Linked DNA regions of Homo sapiens: region 1 is linked to region 2. Evidence: fine-mapped expression QTL. A gene starts in region 2. The other region holds a variant in brackets. All regions are shown on one strand. Distances are between the middles of the regions. Region 1 overlaps KAZN (kazrin, periplakin interacting protein). Region 2 holds the start of KAZN (kazrin, periplakin interacting protein).

Evidence for each region. PIP is the estimated chance that this variant, and not a neighbour inherited with it, causes the effect.
Region 1: its variant is fine-mapped to the expression of KAZN in whole blood (TOPMed, PIP above 0.99).

What each region holds. Positions count from the first base shown.
Region 1 is chr1:14,871,705-14,874,616 of GRCh38, forward strand. All of the region lies in intron 1 of KAZN (kazrin, periplakin interacting protein), which reads left to right. Among named protein-coding and RNA genes, the nearest start is that of KAZN, 270 kb to the left of the region's middle. The variant A/T (reference allele first, on the strand shown) is at 1,289.
Region 2 is chr1:14,597,010-14,599,921 of GRCh38, forward strand. KAZN (kazrin, periplakin interacting protein) reads left to right here and starts at 1,676. Exons shown (of 15, transcript NM_201628.3): 1 at 1,676-2,214. The coding sequence starts at 1,989. RefSeq lists a silencer at 2,343-2,502.

The DNA of each region.
Region 1 (2,912 bases), 270 kb after region 2:
TGCTGTGTGGTGTTAATTCTTTGACTGCATTCATTCACCAAGGCCTGAAGGCATAGTATCCTGATTGACCAGATCTGAGTCACAGGCTCACATGCTGACCCTTGGAATCAGAGTGGGGTCAGCCCCACGTGAGTCTCAGTGTCATGGACTCAGAGTAGGGGAGAGAAAGGTGACCCGGGAGAATGGGGGTGTTTAGAGGGGGTGGGCCAGGAGGAAATCAGGAGCTCAGTCTGGAGCATGCTAGGCTGGAGATGTCTGTTAATCATCTGGGAGCTACCAGAAGAAGGGGGCATGAATATGCGCAGACAGCAAGGCAAGAGGCTATTGCTGGCAGATAAACATCTAAATTCCTGCACTCCTGTATCAGAAGCTGAATTAGGGTGCAAGCGTGTGGGCACCAGTCCCTTAAATTACCCTTCTTTGGAAGGAATAATGGACTTGGAGTCAGAAGACTAGATTTCAAGACTAGCCTCTGCTTCATACTGACTGGGGGACTTCTCTGGGTTTGTTTTCTTGTCTGCAAAATGGGATATAATAAACTACTACTTTAGGGTGGTTATGGAGCAGTGCTGTCTGATAGAACTTCCTAGAACTTTCTATTTAATATGGTAGCCACTGGCCACATGTGGATATTAAGCAATTAACATATAGCTAGTGTGACTAAGGAACTGAATTTTTTATTTTATTTAATTTCAATGAATTTAAATTCAAACAGCCACATATGGCTAACAGCAACCATATTGTACAGTGCAGTTTTAGATTATTCAATTGGATCATTACAGTTTGCTTTGTAAACTGTGAAGTGCTATAAGGGAATATTCATTGCATCCCTTAATTGAAAGCTCCAATGATGAAGCCAGGTACTGTGTGAATAAGTCTTGCTCATGCTCATAATTATTGTAACCACTGATCTAAGTGGGGCCTGAAATCCTTAAAATGGTCTTATTTCTGGACATCTCCCTTCACATTTGAAGGATTAATATAATGGATCTCTCATGAACCTATACAGAATCCCAGTAAGAAATTATTGCATGGATGGATGGTTCGATGGATGGATGGACAAGTGGACAGATGAATGGATAGGTGGATGGATGGATGGACGTACAGATGGATGGGTGGAAGGACAAATGGATGGATGTACAGACGGATACATAGATGAATAGATGGGTGGATGGATGGGTGAATGGATATATGGATAAATGGATGGTTGGGTGGATGGATGGATGGATGGATAGATGGATGGATGGATGGATGGATGGATGGAAAGATGAGTAGAAGAACATATAGA[A/T]GGATACATGGATGGATGGATGGATGGATGGGTGGGTGGATAGATAGATGAATCGGTGGGTGGATGGATGGATGGGTGGATGGATGGATGGATGGAAGGATGGATGGATGGACAGATAGATGAATGGATGGGTGGATGGATGGATGGATGGAAGGATGGATGGATGGACAGATAGATGAATGGATGGGTGGATGGATTCATCCATTCATTCCTTCTGTCACCTGCTATGCACTAGGCATTATTCAAGTAGTTAGGGATAGAATAATAACACAGACAAAGCTCCTGCTTTCAGAAAGACTGTATTCTAAAGGGGAGAGTCAGATGTTCAAGAAGAAAACAAATAGCATAAAGAATTTCTAGTAGCAGTAAGCACTATGAAGGAAAATAAAGTGGGGAAGAGGGATGCAGAATAATGGGGCTGCTGTTTCACATAGGGTGGTCTCTTTGGTAAAGCAGCATTTGAGAAAGCCTTGAGGGAAGGGAGGAAGTGAGCTATGCAGAGATCTGAGGGAAAAGCAGAGAGAACAGAAGAAGGCTAGCATGGCTAAACCAGAGTGTGGGAGGAGAGGAAATGTAAAAGGAGAGGAGGTCAGAGGGAGCCAGGGGCCTTTCAGGCTTTTGGAAGACTTTGCTTTCCTCTCAGTGAAATGAGAAGCCAGTGGTGGGCTTTGAGAAGAGGAGGGATTGGATCTGACATATATTTATGTTGTGTTGAAAATAGACTCTAGGGAGGAAAGGCAGGTGCCGGAGACAAATAAGGAAGCTACTGCAATCATCTAGGCATGAGTTTGTGGTGGCTGGGACCAGGGAGAGAGCAGTGCAAAGTGGGGCAAAGTGGCGAGATTCAGTATCTAGTTCAAAGGTAGAGCCAGCAGAACTGACGTGGTGGATGTGGTGGGTAGGAGAAAAAGGAGAAGTCCAGAATGATTCCAGAGATGCACCCTTGAGTAACTGGAAGGAAAGCACTTGTCATTTCTTGAAATAGAGAAGACAGGGGCAGGAGCGAGTTTAGAGGGGGTGGGCCAGGAGGAAATCAGGAGCTCAGTTTGGAGTATGCTAGGTTAGAGATGTCTATTAATCATCTGAGAGTTGACTGTCCAAATTTCAAGGGAGAGGACAGGGCTGGTCATATCCATTTGGGAATCATCAGCATATACAGATGATATTTAAAGCCACGATACCAGACAAGTGAGTACAGATAGAGAATCCAAGGATTGAGCTCTGGAGTCCTCCAACATTTGGAGGTCGGAAGGGGGAAGAGGATCCAACAAAGGCTACTGAAAAGGAACAGCTGGTGAGGTAGGAAGAAACCAGTAGAGAAGTGACATGTGTCCGGAAGAGAGTGTTCAACTGTTAGATGCTGCTGACAGATTAAGTAAGAGGGGCTGGAAAGGTGACCACTGGATTTAATAATGTCATTGGTGACCTTGAGTTGTTTCAGAGGAATGGTGGCATGAATCGCTAGCTAGCTGGCTGACTGGATGGATGGATGGATGGATGGATGGATGGATGGATGGATGGATGGATGGACAGATGGATGGAAGGCTAACTTAACTACTGCAGCTAACTTAACTACTGCAGGTAACTGCACCATCTTGTCACCTGTGACAGCAATTAAGCAACT
Region 2 (2,912 bases):
TGTTTTCCACAATGGCTGCACCACGGCATCCCCCTTTTCAAGACCCACACAGCTCTGTAGTTTTGATGCTCTCCCCATAACGTAACTGAAAGACTGCAAAGAACTGAATCCTGGTTTGCAGATACACTAAGCAGTTCTAAGTGCCTTGGTTGGTCCAGTTGGTAAGAACTTGTGTTAATGAGGTTAAGGTCAGGGTTCGATCCCCGAACTGACCCATTAGCTGAGCAGAGCGGACAGAGTGAAGAATTGTGTCTTCCTGCCACATGCTCCACCATCAAATCCTGCCCTCTTGCAAAAGCTTGTTAGTGGTCACAGGGGAATGGAGCAAGACTGTTTTTATGGTTCCACAGAAAAGGGGGGAGAAATCTATCATCCAAGGCCTCCTGAAGGCGCAGCAGGAGGAACTTGCAATCAGATGATTACTTTCTTCCAGTCCCGCTGTCACCTGGTTTCTGCGGGCCCCTTAAGTAAATTGCTTAACCCTATGCAGAGCCTCAGTTTCCTTATCCCTAAAATGGGAATAATAATCCTCACTCACAAGAGATAAGAATGCATATAAAAGCACTCTACACGCAGTTTTTGCTTGGTTCTTATGGGCTTCCTGTAAGAACCTGAAGGGTGGGCAGCCTCATTTTTCCTCGCAGCACCCCACTGGCTTCTGCAATCTGCTCTTTGCTGCTCTCCGGAGGTTGACTGAGCTGGAATGATGGCGCCCTGTTGACCAGAGGGTTGCTGGCTGTTTTAAATTGTCCTATTTGCATGGAATGAAGTTTGCTATGGTAACAAGGTCTGGTGGCTGGAATCCAGGGCCCCAGTGAAAAATGCAAAGCCTGTGGTCTGGGAGAGAAAGAGGAGCTGGAGAGGGCATATCAACGTCAGGTTACCTCAGTTCTTCTGTGAAGAGGGGATGGGTAAACTGAGGCAGCAGGGCTCAACTCTTCTGCTCCCAGTAGAAGAAAGGGAAGAAGCCCCATCGACGCCTTCCTTCTTATCTCTCAACCTCATCTCTGTCCCCGCCAATATTCAGCCCGGCTAAGAAGCTTAGGAGCTGGCTAAGGCTGCTCCTCCACCTGGATGCACACACAGGGCTAGGGCTGTGGAGAGGCGGGAGCACCAGCGGCCCACGCCGAGGAAGATAGGCGCTCCCTCCTGGGGTGGGCAGCGCAGGTCTGGCCTGCGGGTGGGGGGTGGAGAGTGAGAGGCACGCGGGGCACCAGCTCAGCTCCCCTCTGGGGATTTCGTACTCGCAGTTTAAGGAACCGGTGGAGCACGAACTCCACTCCTGAGCTGGCGCAAGCGTCTCCCTTCCATGGAGATCCACCCCGGCTCCCCTCTGAGGCCCCCTTTCCAAGCACCCTCTCTTCCGAGCACCCAGCACCTCCCCAACCTTAGCACGGCTCGGGGCACCAGTTCTCCAGGGCGGGGGCTGCCCCACCGCTCAAGGGAGGGGACAGAGGGCCGGCCTCGGTCCAGGCGACCCCTGCCCCTCGCCAGGGGCGCCACCTTGGCCCCCTCCCGACTGCCGTCCGCCGCCTCCGCCCCCCCGGGGGGTGTGTCTCCGAAGTACGGGGGCGCGGGAGGCCAAGGGTGCCCCCAGCCTCCGACCGAGACCCCCTCCCGAGCCGGCGGCGAATGGTAGGCTCCATTTAAAGAGTGCCTGGTGGCGCGCGGTGTCCTTCTTGGAGCAGCTCTCGGCGCCCGCCCGCCGGGGTCTCGGCGATCGCTGCTCCTCCTCCTCCTTCTCCTCCTCTTTTTTCTCCTCCGCCTCCTCCCCCCGCCGCCTCGCCACCGCCGCGGCTAGGGCTGGAGGCGCCGCTGTCATTCCTGTGCCGGAGGAACCGGCGCTGCCGGTGCCTGGGGGTCGGGGCGCGGGCGAAGCCGGGCCGCGGAGGACACAACAGGTAGAGCCGGGGGTGCCCGGCCGCGCGCCCCCCGCGCATCATGCAGCTCTTTGTCACCTCTCTCGCCCCCAGGCCAAAATCCTGAGCATGATGGAAGACAATAAGCAGCTCGCGCTCCGCATCGATGGGGCGGTCCAGTCGGCCAGCCAGGAGGTGACCAACCTGCGAGCCGAACTCACGGCCACCAACCGGAGACTGGCGGAACTGAGCGGCGGCGGCGGCCCCGGCCCGGGCCCGGGAGCCGCGGCCAGCGCCTCGGCGGCGGGGGACTCGGCGGCGACGAACATGGAGAACCCCCAGCTTGGAGCGCAAGGTAGGATCGCCCCGGCGCCCAGGGCGGAGGAAGGCGAGCAGAGCACGCCCGGCCTCGGAGGTGGCCGGGGACCCGGGGTCCCCCACACCCGGGGCGAAATCGCTTTGCATTCTGGCTTGTAACCCTTTCCGCCCGGCGGTGGCCACCGCTGCTCTCCGGCTGGGAGTTGCAGGCTGCTGTCATTCACGAAAACCCGAGCGCAGTGTGCACGGGGTCACACGGTCACACCGGCCCCGGCCAGCCTGAGCGAGGCGCAGCCGGCGGGTCCCTTCCGGCATCAGAAAGTGCCCTTTCCGTGGCACCAGCCCCCTAGCTCCGTGCAAACTTTTCATGCCGGGGCCTTTTCCCCACCCCCCGCAGGGGTGAATGGCACAGTTCCCCCCACTTCCTTAGGCTCCTTCCCAGAGAGAGCTCCGGGCTCTGCCGCCGTGGTTGGGATAGAGGATTGCACTGCTGTGCACTTTTCTCCGCGGATGCCAAATCCCTTGGCTCAGTTGCATCTGGACTTTATTTTCTTCTCATTTGAGGTCTCTCAGGCATTGGAATCTATAGATGCAACAGTAGATGCTCAGCTCAGCAGGGAGTTTAAATTTCCGCAAATATAAACACCGAGAGCACTTTCCAGGGGGATACTGTAGACCTCAAAGGTTGAGCGGTAGAGAAATGAAGGCTTAGGGTGGTGGGCTGCAGGGAGCCCG